Linked DNA regions of Homo sapiens: regions 1 and 2 are each linked to region 3. Evidence: fine-mapped expression QTL. A gene starts in region 3. Each other region holds a variant in brackets. All regions are shown on one strand. Distances are between the middles of the regions. Region 1 has its middle 2.8 kb from the start of LINC01988. Region 2 has its middle 22 kb from the start of ZKSCAN7. Region 3 holds the start of ZNF197 (zinc finger protein 197).

What was found. PIP is the estimated chance that this variant, and not a neighbour inherited with it, causes the effect.
Region 1: its variant is fine-mapped to the expression of ZNF197 in whole blood (INTERVAL, PIP 0.96).
Region 2: its variant is fine-mapped to the expression of ZNF197 in whole blood (TOPMed, PIP 0.97).

What each region holds. Positions count from the first base shown.
Region 1 is chr3:44,422,975-44,427,214 of GRCh38, reverse strand. It overlaps the pseudogene C3orf86P. Among named protein-coding and RNA genes, the nearest start is that of LINC01988, 2.8 kb to the left of the region's middle. RefSeq lists an enhancer at 2,232-2,371. The variant C/A (reference allele first, on the strand shown) is at 1,732.
Region 2 is chr3:44,530,960-44,535,199 of GRCh38, reverse strand. No RefSeq gene overlaps it. Among named protein-coding and RNA genes, the nearest start is that of ZKSCAN7, 22 kb to the left of the region's middle. RefSeq lists silencers at 2,029-2,323, 2,215-2,343. The variant C/T (reference allele first, on the strand shown) is at 2,173.
Region 3 is chr3:44,623,013-44,627,252 of GRCh38, reverse strand. It overlaps ZNF197 (zinc finger protein 197), which reads right to left and starts at 2,217. Exons shown (of 6, transcript NM_006991.5): 1 at 2,110-2,217. All of the region lies in intron 2 of ZNF660-ZNF197 (ZNF660-ZNF197 readthrough), which reads right to left. The region is part of intron 2 of ZKSCAN7-AS1 (ZKSCAN7 ZNF cluster antisense RNA 1); the gene reads left to right. It overlaps ZNF197-AS1 (ZNF197 antisense RNA 1), which reads left to right and starts at 2,456. Exons shown (of 2, transcript NR_046658.1): 1 at 2,456-2,531. RefSeq lists an enhancer at 1,382-1,884 and a silencer at 1,864-2,213.

The DNA.
Region 1 (4,240 bases), 200 kb after region 3:
CCGAGGCGGGTGGATCACCTGAGGTCGAGAGTTTGAGACTAGCCTGGCCAACATGGTGAAAACCCATCTCTACTAAAAATACAAAAAATTAGCTGGGCATGGTGGCACACACCTGTAATCCCAGCTACTCGGGAGGCTGAGACAGGAGAATCGCTTGAACCTGAGAGGTGGAGGTTGCTGTGAGCCGAGATTGTGCCACTGCACTCCAGCCTGGGGACAGAGTGAGGCTCCATCTCAAAAATAAATAAATAAATAAAATTAATGTAGGAAATTTAGGAAGTTTGAATTATAAGAAATCTAATTTTGGTCTGGAATAAGCCAAAATATTGTACTAACATTTTTTAAAAAAATAAACTAATAAGGAGTGAATCATGCTAACATTTTCCTTTATTTTGAAGTTGGCGTCTTTTCTTTTGTCATAGCTAGTTTAAAAGGTTATCAGGGAAATACATTTTCTAGTGTCCATAAAAAATAGTTCAATAACTTTTTTCTTTAGACAATTTAGACTTTACCTGAACTAAAAATTCCTAGAATATATGCATAACGGCTGAATGTAATTTTTGTTAAGTCTTTCATTTTGTTAAGTTTTCAAAAGAGGGAAAAGGAGAGGAAATGGGATAGAAAAAAAATGAGAGGGAGCTGGCTTTAGACAAATAACTAATCATTTTTCTCTGTAAGAAGAGGGATGAAAGTTTAGACATATATACAATACACACACGAGAGTGTCCTATATCTGGTTTTGACATAATTTCAGTTTGTGACAATTCTATCAAGCCATACAATTTTTTAAAAGCCAGAATGTATTAATCTCCAACTTATGGAAAGGAAGGAAGTGATGCCTCCCTGTGAAACAAAATGATCTGTCATTTAGGCAAACAAGACAAAGATTTTCCTCATGAGGGGTCTTTTATTCTTGATATCCAGAGTCTCCTTAAAATGTTTAGCCAAGCCCAGGTGCAGTGGCTCATGCCTGTAATCCCAGCACTTTGGGAGGCCAAGGCCGGTGGATCATGAGGTCAGAAGATCAAGACCATCCTGGGTAACATGGTAAAGCCCTGTCTTAGCTAAAAATACAAAAAAAATTAGCCGGGCATGGTGGCGGGCGCATGTAACCCCAGCTACTTGGGAGGCTGAGGCAGGAGAATGGTGTGAACCCGGGGAGGCAGAGCTTGCAGTGAGCTGAGATCACGCCACTGCACTCCAGCCTGGGTGACAGAGCGAGACTCCATCTCAAAAAAAAAAAAATGTTTAGCCAAATATTGATGTTTATGCAATAGAGTGATTTGCCAGCCAACATTTTTGTTTACCCAACATAGTGACAGTTTTGGACCTGAAGCCTTTCACAAAATGTGGCAAGGGCATTGGAAATGTCAACATTTTAAAGATGCTTGGTCGGGCACGGTGGCTCATGCCTGTAATCCTAGCACTTTGGGAGGCTGAGGTGGGTGGATCACTTGAAGTCAGAAGTTTGAGACCAGCCTAGCCAACATCGTGAAACTCCATCTCTACTAAAAATACAAAAATTAGTTGGGCGTGGTAGCACAGGCCTGTAATCCCAGCTACTCAGGAGGCTGAGGCGGGAGAATCACTTGAACCTGGGAGAAGGAGTTTGCAGTGAGCTGAGATGGTGCCATTGCACTCCAGCCTGGGCAACAGAGTGAGACTCCATCTCAAAAAAAAAAAAAAGAAAAGAAAAAAGAAAAAAAAGATGCACATGAGGGAAAAGATGCT[C/A]CTATTTCATATTAGTTATAGCTAAAGAATATTTTAGAGAAGCATTTTTTGAGTCCAAATTGTGTTTAGGAGCCTCCTCATACCAATTAAAGACAGCAGACCATTGGATATTCAGAATTTTGCTTTGTTTTTGTTTTGTATATATCAGAGTTTCCCCAAAGTGATCACTATAATTCTAAATTATCTTTGGGGAAATTGTACCAGTTAGAAAGCTATGCACATGAAGGGAGCCGGTGTTTGGCCTGAAAGAGGCTGAGTTTTCGATAGAAAAGACTCCATGGGAACTTCAGCGTGTCCACAGGGTGGTACTTGTGTGACACTGCGTCTTGGAGCCAGCCAAAGACTAACCAGCATTCAGGGTTGTCCAAGGCTTGGAAGACAAAGCCCTCAAAGCACACTGATCAAGAGCTGGACGCCATGGTGGGGGCAATAAGCTCTTAAGCTTGCCAATATTCACAGCAAGGGGGTTTCCAAGATCAGCTGGGGGAAGGTAATGGAATGAGTTAGAGTTTCCTGGGGAAACTGCCCCTGTGTGGACCGAGGTGGAGAGGCCCTGGGGAGGAAGGGAGGAAGCACACCTGGCCTCACCAAGCACACTGCCAGAGCAGGTGAGCTGAGCCAGGGAGGGAAGAGGGGACAGAGGCTTCTCCTTCACCTTAGCAATGGCCTCATGCTACGGACAGGCCTGCAGCAGTCTCTGGGAAGGCCCAAGGCTACTAGCACCAATGGGGAAAGGCTGCTGGGCAAGCCCCTGGGGGCTGGGAAGGGATTCATTTCTCACTAAGCTCCAGCAGCCCTGTGGACTGCCCCACATCGGGTGGGCACCATCAGGCAGGTGAGGAGAGGAGAAAAGCCTGCTTGGGTGACCTGGGGCCAGCCCAGGAGGACGACTGTTCCATCTTCTGCCAGCACCATGGGCTGGCTCCATGGGACACACAGCAGCCGCTGGGTCCATAGAGTGGGGAACGTGGTGAGGATTCAAGGTGGGCCTGGGCTGGGCAGTCCCAGTAAGCAGCTGGTGACATGGGGAGCTGCATCTAATTCTCAGGGAGACCAGGGTGTGAAGAGGGTGTGAGGCCCAGCAAGCCAGACCCAGGGGAGTAGGGAGGGGATCACAAGATGTTCCTGATCCAGGTAGCCCTGGCTACCATTATACTGAGCACAAACCAACCTTGTCAGAGGACATTGCCCCTTGTTTATAAATTTGGGTTCTAGAAAAAAACCCCGATGCTGTTTTTTGGAGCCATGTGATGGGACTGCTGGAAACCAGGCAGGGAAAGGCAATGGCAGGCACACTTCCAGTTTTGGGGCATCAGGCACTGTGACAGCGAGGATGGTGCAGGGGTGAGTGGGGAGCTGCCCTGCAGGGGTCTGAGATCACCAGGCAGAAGCTAGGCTGGGATAGGGCGGGAAACGCATTACACAACAAAGATTAGATTGCAGGGGCCCCAGCCTTCTAATGCCCCTCCTGCTCTCTGAAGCTCCCTCCACAGACTCCTCCACCCCAGAACCTTCCGACAGGTAAGCTTCAAACCCTTCATACCTATCCAGTTCCCTAGCTCCTGGCCAGCCTCTAACTGTTCAGCCCCCGAACCCCCTGTTTCCACCCACCCTGAACCAGGGGATCTCTGCAGGTTGTGCTGACTCCCCCATGGCCTTGTGGCCACCAGGGGATGCTGGGGAAATCCTCTCCACCTGAGCAAATCAGAACTTCCTGTAGGACACAGGTGTCAGGATCAGCTTCTGGTTGAGCTGGTTGATATTCTAGGTAGCGCACCTTGAAGTTTCTCAGGATTGACAGTCATTGTGTCTGTTCTAAAGAAGGTGAAGGAATTTGATGGAAAGAAAGTAGGAAGAGTCGCCCAGACTTGCAGGCTGCCTCCTGTACTTATTCTGAGAACGTGTTCACATGGCATAGGCGTTTCCTTTTGTGGCCATTTGTAAGAATGGGAAATGAATGACTTTTTTTTTTTTTTTTTGAGACGGAGTCTCACTCTGTCACCCAGGCTGGAGTGCAGTGGCGTGATCTCGCCTCACTGCCAGCTCCGCCTCCCAGGTTCACGCCATTCTGCTGCCTCAGCCTCCCAAGTAACTGGGACTACAGGCCCCCGCCACCAAGCCAGGCTAATTTTTTTGTTTTTTTTTTAGTAGAGACAGGTTTCACCGTGTTAGTCAGGATGGTCTCAATCTCCTGACCTCATGATCCACCCGCCTTGGCCTCCCAAAGTGCTGGGATTACAGGTGTGAGCCACTGCGCCTGACCAGGAAATGACTTATTCTTACAAATGACCACAGGTGTGGCTGCTTGATACAACACCCATTTATTTATTATTTATTTATTAATTTATTTAGAGACAAGGTCTCCCTCTGACATCCAGGCTGGATGGAGCGTAGTGGTACAATCTCAGCTCACTGCAGCCTTGACCACCCCAGGCTCAAGCGATTCTCCCACCTCAGCCTCCTGAGTAGCTAGGACCACAGGTGGATGCCACCACACCTAGCTAATTTA
Region 2 (4,240 bases), 92 kb after region 3:
GGTTTGTAGAAATGCCTAAAGTCATCCTGCTCCAGTGCCTGGAGGGCACTGCAGAATCACTGGTGCTGCTGTTAAATCTAGTGCAGATGACAAGTTATGAGAAAGTGTATTTATGTTGCCTTATCTGTTACAGTGATTGTTTGGGGAAACCAGCCCCACACCACCTGCTACCCTGAGTCCAGCGGAGACAAAGGAGTTAGAAAGAGACAGAATAAGCGTTTAAAAAGCAGGTCCAGGGGACCTGAGCATCGGAGGCTTGCTCACAGCCCAGGCTCTGCCTGATTTATTGGTTTACAAGCTCTTTGTTCTTAGGGCAGATGGGAGGGGTAGGAAGGGATGAGGAAAAGGATTAATCAGTGAAGGAGAACTCATGAGTCATTCAATAATATGTGTAGCTGTGGTGGTTTCTGTGAATTTCCTTGAGCAAAGGCATGTGTCTAAACTACTTAAGATCTTTAACTTATCGGGACTGAAATGGGTGGGAGTGGCTTTCAGGAGGGGCCAAGATGTTTGATTATACTCCACTGCTTCAAGGGAGTGTTACCTCCTTGAGCAACTGTGGAATTCTGCTGAGTGGTTATGCTGTCGGGGCATAAAGACATGAAGGCAATAAGAAGACTTTTCTCCTCAGAGGCCGCCCATGGCTCCCCTTGGGTGTCTCACACAGGGAAGACCAACTCAGCTGGCACCGCAGAAACTCTCTTTCCCACAGTGATCAGTATAGCTGCCCAAAAGATACTGTGGATGGAAGGGCCAGCTGCCACATACCCTCCTGATGGAAGTACCGAGTACATTGGCCTGAGACTGGAGTCCTCTCCAATAGCCCACTGTCCAGCCCCTGGCCTTACCAACGCTCAGGACAGATTAGAAATGGACCGTAAGTCAACAGCACCCTCCTTTCCTCAACTTGCCACTTGGGTGGGCATTAGCTCATCCAGAGAATTTGATTTGGCAGATACCATGCTTCTTTTATATCATTTCTTTGCCACCTAATTTGTACTTATGATTGTAGAAATATAAGAAAATATAAAGAAGTAAAAGAAGAAAATAAAAAGAAATTATATTTCAAAGATAACCAGTTAAGCTTTGGTCTTTTTTAAATAGACATTTAAATTAAGGAGTAGTGCTAAAAAAAATACATAGAAGCACATACTTTTTTTCCTTACAAAACCAGATGGTGGGAGAAATGAAGCTCTGCAGGGCATTAGGTCAGATCTTCCTTTCACTTTATTGTAGAGTAGCCTCCACTGCAGGGAGAGAATTCAGCCTGGCACGTCACCTCATGCTATCCAGTGAACCCTGCCCCTCACAGAACACAATTCTGGTCACTCTGGGTGACAGAAGGGGACTTGTAGTCAGTTTCAGCTGCAGAAGGGGTTACTAGCCATGTATAGAACTTTTTTAATTCCAAGAAGTTATGATTTTTAGAATAACTCTAAACAGGCTGGGCGTGGTGGCTCACACTTGTAATCCCAGCATTTTGGGAGGTCAAGGTTGGCAGATCACCTGAGGTCAGGCATTTGAGACCAGCCTGGCCAACATGGTGTAACCTCGTCTCTACTGAAAGTACAAAAATTAGCTGGGCGTGGAGGTGCAGGCTTATAATCCCAGCTACTTGGGAGGCCGAGGCAGGAGAATCACTTGAACCTGGGAGGTGGAGATTGCAGTGAGCTGAGATCATGCCACTGCACTCCAGCCTGGGTGACAGAGCAACACTCCGTCTAAAAAAAAAAAAAAGAATAAACCTAAATATAATCCTAATGTTATACACCTTCCTGTCACCTTCCATCTTGGTGTGCACTTAACACCCCTGAACAGGTTTGACCAGCTCCTTAGAACCATAGTAAAAGACTTTACAATTTGAGAAGGGAACATGAAGAAAAATTTAATCTCATTTATCAAAGTAATACATATTAATCCTGAAAAAATAATTCAGAAATACAGAGGGTAAAAGCAGTCATTCTACTTTTGCATTTAAAAAGTTCTTTGTTGTTTTGGGTTTCCCTAGTATGTTTCTAAGGGGTGTGGGTTGGCTTCACACTCGTCTCTTTCTTTTTGTAGACCCATTTGCCTTATATATTTTAAAGCTGTGCTGATAGGTTCAGGGTGCATGTAAGTTTATGACAAATCATTCAATAGTTACGGAACGGTTGCTGTACACCAGGCACTGTC[C/T]AGGGTCCTGAAAAGAGTCAAGAACAGGATAGAACAGGCTAGAAGCGCCATCTAGTGGATGGTACTTGTTTTATACAAAATTTAGCCGGGTGTGGTGGCGCACGCCTGTAATCCCAGCTACTTGGGAGGCTGAGGCAGGAGAATTGCTTGAACGCTGAAGGCGGAGGTTGCAGTGAGCCGAGATCGCACCACTGCACTCCAGCCAGGGCGACAGAGCAAGACTCCGTCTCAAAAAAACAAAAAAGAAATAAATTGGACTATTTGAAGGAGAATCCTTAGTGTTCCCCCCTACCCCCATTTGCTCTCGCTGTCTCTGAGACAGGGTCTCACTCTGTCGCCCAGGCTGGAGTGAAGTGGTGTGATCATAGCTCACTGCATCCTTGACCTCCTGGGCTCAAGCTGTCTTCCCTCCTCAGCTTTCTGAGTAGCTGGGACTATAGGTGTGTGTCACCACGTCCAGCTGATTTTTATATTGTTTTTTTGTAGAGACAGGGGTCTCACTATGTTGCCCAGGCTGGTCTCAAACTTCTGGCCTCAAGTAATCCTCCTGCCTCAGCCTCCCAAAGTGCTGGGATTACAGGCACGAGCCACCGTGCCCAGCCTCTCAGTTCTCTGTTTTCATCATAATTCAACATTTCACAGATTAGTGTTAGTAGTCTATGTCATAAGAAGTTTATTTATAAAGGTAACAAATAGGTTGAAAGATAATTACAGTAATTCTTATGCTCCTATATTAACAAGTATTGAAAAACTTCACCCTCCTTTCTTAGGGGGTGCCATTTAAACTAACAGATGAATTTTAAAGGACTGCTATACCCCTGAAGGTGTGAGAAAGGAGCATTCTATGCAGTGGGAAAAGTTGCTGCAAAGGCTCAAGATGTAACTGATTGGGCTGATCAGGTGACAGAAGGGAGGCCACTGTGCCTGGATGAGAGTCACAGTGTCAGAGGTGCAGTCAGAGTTGGGCAGAGGCCTGCCTGCGGAAGACCATGTTGGCCAGGTTAACCAATTTGAAGTTGCTTGGGGGAGATTAATTTCAGTGTCAGGAGGCCAGTTAGAGCACCATTGCAGGACTACATTTGAGAGAAGATGGTGGCCAGGACTAGGGATGATGTGCTGTGGAGATGGAAAGAAATGGGTGGATTTACAATGCATTTTGGAAGAAGAATAAACTGGACTTGCTGATGTTTTAGATGTGAGAGGGTGGAGAATTAAGAGCAACTTCTAGACTGGGCGTGGTGGTTCATGCCTGTAATCCCAGCACTTTGGGAGGCTGAGGCAGATGGATCACTTGAGGTCAGGAGTTTGAGACCAGCCTGGCCAACATGGTGAAACCTTGTCTCTACTAAAAATACAAAATTAGCCAGGCATGGTGGTGTATGCCTGTAATCCCAGTTACTTGGGAGGCTGAGACAGGAGAATCGCTTGAACTCAGGAGGCAGAGGAGGTTGCAGTGAGCCGAGATTGTGCCATTGCACTCTAGCCTGGGCAACAAGAGGGAAACTCCATCTCAAAAAAAAAGAAAAAAAGAGTAACTTCTAGGTTTCCTGACTTGGACATTGTTCGACAACTTAGGGATTGATTATTGGTTTTTTATCAATATGAAATATTCCATTCTATGCCCATTAAATGCTTAGCCTTAGAGTCTGTTTTGTCTCATATTAATAATTCTACACAGCTTTTTCTCTTGTTGTTAGAACTTGCTTGGTGTACCCTTTTTCCTTCCTTTCTTTTCAACCTTTTCTATTGTTTGGTTTTATTGTAGGTAAATCTCTTGTAAAAAGTCTCCTCCCTTCTCTGTCTCCCTCCTTCCTTTTAATGAGGAAACATAACATGTTTGTATACATTGTGATTAAGGATAGACTTGGACTTTGTAACACTATATTAGTGTCTTTTATGGCCCATGCTTTCTCTCCTATATTCCTCCTTGTCTGCTCTTTGGTGCAGTAAAAATTGAGTGGAAAAACCAGAAACAGGGAGACTTAGAAGGCTTACACCCGTAGGCACACTGGGTCTTTCTAGAGTCACCTTCATCTTTTCTGGGCCCACCTCACATGCAGAGCTTTCT
Region 3 (4,240 bases):
CTTTACATTTTTCCTTATTTTTAAAAATAGTAATATATTCACTTGGTTCAAAATTTAAAATTATAAAATGTATACTGTGTAAAGTTTCCTTCTCCGTTAGCTTCTTATCTATCTTTCCAGTTATTTCTGCATATGTGTGTACATATATTGTTTTCTAGTTCCCTTTTTTTCACAAATGGTAGGACACCATGAATGACGTGGTACATTTTCCTCTTCTCAATAATATGTCTTAGAGATCTTTCCTGTCAATACACAGCCCCTCTCCGCATTTTTATGGATGCATAGATGTATCATAATTTATTCATGCCAGCACTGATGGAATGTTTGGGTAGTTTTCAATCATTTCTTATTACCAACAATATAATCATGAATAATCTTGGGCATACATCAGTTTGGATGTGTGTAGGCATATATAAGAAAAATTCCTTGAATCAGAATTGCTGAGTTAAAAGGTATATACATGTATAATTTTGATATTGCCAATTTGACCTCACTAGGATTGAACCAATTTATAATTTATACTCCCATCAGAAACAGCTGTATGGGAGTGCCTTTCCTCACTTTCACCAATATGTTTCTCAAAGTTTGTGCTCTTCGCCAAATTTTTGACTTGCATTTTGAACGAATTAATATAGAGTCATTTGTATATTTTTTAAAGTAACTATTCATATATTTTGCCCATGTTTCCATTGAGGTGTTGGGTCTTGTTAATTTGTACACACTTTTATCACAGGAAAATTAGTCCTTTGTTTACAATGGCAGCTGCAAATTTTTCTCAGTTTGTCAAGTGTCTTTGTGACTATATATGCCATGTGACTTTGCTTAAAGTGTTTTTTGCCATGCAGTCAATCTTTTACGACTTCTGGGTACTGTACCACAATTAGAAAGACCTTTTTCACTCTGAGCATGAAGAGAGTCTTAAGTGGTGTCAGGACTCTATTAGTGAGAAATGGTGGGGGTGGGAGGGCTGGATATCAAGAAAGGTCAGTTAGGTTTTTCTAATAGTCTAAACACATGACTTAAGTTCTAAACGAAGTAGGGATAAGGCAATTGAGAAAAACTTGGTAGTCCTTGGTAACTGATCTGGGGGTGATGGAAAGGAATTTTTAAAAAGAATTTTGAATAATTTTCAAATAACATAAAAATAACAAATTCTTAAACATACATTTTATTAGCTTCTCACAAAAGGTTTTCAAAGCAGAAGTTAAAAAAAACAAAAGGATCAGAGGAGCGAATCCACTCAAGGCCACTTAGCTAACTGAGACATGGGAGCAAATTCTGAATTCAGGGATTCTAATTCCAGAAGTCCAAAACAATTCCATCTACGAAGAAACTTATGAAACCCAAACAACCCAAACTGTTCTAAAACAACAGTTTCCAAACACCAGTCCACGACAAAGCTTTAATCTGGTAAGCTGCAAAAAGAGAAAACCAGTAACAATCGTCGCTGACAGGTTGGCAATGAGTGTGTGTGTGTGTGTGTGTGTGTGTGTGTGTGTGTGCGCGCGCGCGCGCAAAGGCCAGCATTTATTCTGAGTTTACGGTCTTAGTACTTTGTGTTAAAATGTATTGCCTGAAGTAATGTTGGTATGGGTGGTTTCAAGTTTGAGTTTTTCAAGTTTGATTTTTAAATACCATTATATTACAAAACTAAAAGACTAAAAAAGCTAAAATCGTTCCACCCCTTAAAACAAACAAACAAAAAAATCCGTCCTCAAGAGTCTGGGCGCCACCGGTAATAGGGAAACCTCAGAATGTTTCTGTGGATTAGCCTCAGACAAGACTGAGGAAGAGCAGAAAGGCCTGAGCTGGGGGAGCAGGCTACTGAGGCAGCTCTTCTCAAAGCGCCAGCAGAGTCCGTTAGACAGGAGCACCGGTCCACAAACACACACAGACTCGGAGCTGCTGTCCTCAGTACTTCCCTCGGGCCGGCTGCCTGCCCAGCCGAGGCCACGACGTCGAACCCCAACACGAAGCTGGCGACGGACCATGCCGGGGGTCAGGGCCCGGGAGAGGCTACCGAGGGCTGTGCAGTCCCAGCAAGCTCAGGCCCGCGTCCCGGGCCGCCTTCCCTGCACGCCCACCCGCCCCCGAGCCCACCCCGCTCACCGGGGGCTCCCGCTGCGGCTCCAGCCTTGCGTACCGCCGCCTCGGCGCCAGGCCGCTAGGAGATGACACAGGAACGAGCCCTTCCGGCAGCCGAGGCACAGAATAATGGCCGAGCCGAGAATACTGCGACTTCCGGTTGCACCCCGCCCCTCATCCCGGATCTCTAGGAAGCCACATCTCTATGGTTCGTTTCTTTTCCCAGAACTGGGGAAGAGAGGCGGAACTCCTGAGCCCTTGGGTACTAGTGTTCCTTACATCGAACAAGAACTGGCCGCTGTTTCAGACCGGAAGGGTGCAGAGATGAAAGACAGGACCCAGGGTCTCAGGATGCCTGTTGCCTCCTAAGAGAGTTGGACATTTCTATTTTGATTTGCATTTCAATTGAGGTTGATAGGGAGTGACCTTCACGTCTGAATGACCTGGTAGGTGACTTTTCTGGTCTCTTCTTGAACTTATGCAATTCTCACTATAAATAATAACATGACTTATAAATCACCCTCTTGTGAATTCGCTTACTGTGGTGTATCTCTTGCCCACATGATGACATATTGGAGCTATGATATTAAATAATAATCAAGTTGATGGTGCAAGGTAATGTGCAAATGGTAGGGACATCTCTCCCCTGAAAGAAGAGGTTATTCTAGCTGTCCATCGCCCTGGGTAAAGTCAGGTGTATATAAAGGAAACTGGCACTCTGATCCTCTCTTTGGTCTTCAGTCTCTTAAGTTTGGACTTCTGGAACTGACACCCCTATATGGGACTATGGCTGAAACAAGTCTCCAAAAGGGCAAAGGCCATGTCTGCATGGATCCCATGTATTTAGCACCTAGTACAAAGCTGAAGCCATATAGGTTGTAGATGAATGTTTATTCAATGAGCAAGGTTCATGTTATTCTGTTTATGTCTTTTTTTTTTTTTTGAGATGGAGTTTTGCTCTTGTTGCCCAGGCTGGAGTGCAGTGGCGCAATCTTGGCTCACTGCAATCTCCACCTCCCGGGTTCAAGCGATTCTTCTGCCTCAGCCTCCTGAGCAGCTGGGATTACAGGCACGTGCCACCATGCCTGGCTATTTTTTTTTTTTTTTTTTTTTTTTAGTAGAGACGGGGTTTCACAATGTTGGCCAGGCTGGTCTTGAACTCCTGACCTCAGGTGATCCACCCCCACCTTGGCCTTCTAAAGTGTTGGAATCACAGGCGTGAGCCACCGTGCCAGGCTTATTCTGTTTATTTCTTTATGTTCTCTCCTGGCATTCATTAAACAACATACTTAAACTTCAGCCTTGATTCATTCATTCATTCAACTACTGAGTACTTGCCATATGCCAAATACTGTTCTGGGCACTAGGGACATAGATAAAGAGGTAAAGTCTCTGTTCTCATGGGGCTTACATTTCTAGTGGGATAAACAGAAAACAAATATAAAAATGTGTCAGGTGGTGGTAAATGCTAAGAAATGTGAAAGCTGATCATAAGAATTGGGTCATTTTTGTCATACCTAATAAAAGAAAGTCGAGAAATTAGCTGGGGGAAGCACTCAGGGTACACAACATTGCTCCAGGAATGTTATTCTCTGTAAGCTTGACTGCTGAAACTGCTTATTATAAGCCAAAACCAGTTTTATCTATAGCTTCTGAGATAAGTTGCTGCAACTCTAGGACTAATTTTGCCCACCGCAGTTGCTCACCAACTGGAGCTTGTCAGCTCCCCACACCCTTACTACTGCCAATGAACTTTCTCAAAGAGCAATATGTAACATTCCTCCTTTTTGTAAAACCTCTAACCTTCTCTTTGTTCTTCAGAGAGAGCACCACTTTCAGTTCAAGCCAGAGACTATCTCTCCGAGTTTGTAAACTGATGTTGTGAATAAAACTTTCTTTTCTTTCTTTCTTTCTTTTTTTTTTTTTTTTTTTTGAGATGGAGTCTCACTCTGTCGCCCAGGCTGGAGTGCAGTGGCGCGATCTCGCTCACTGCAACCTCCGCCTCCCGGGTTCAAATGATTCTCCTGTCTCAGATTCCTGAGTAGCTGGGATTACAAGCGCACGCCACCATGCCTGGCTAATTTTTTGTATTTTAGTAGAGATGGGGTTTCACCGTGTTGCCCAGGCTGGTCTCAAACTCCTGAGCTCAGGCAAT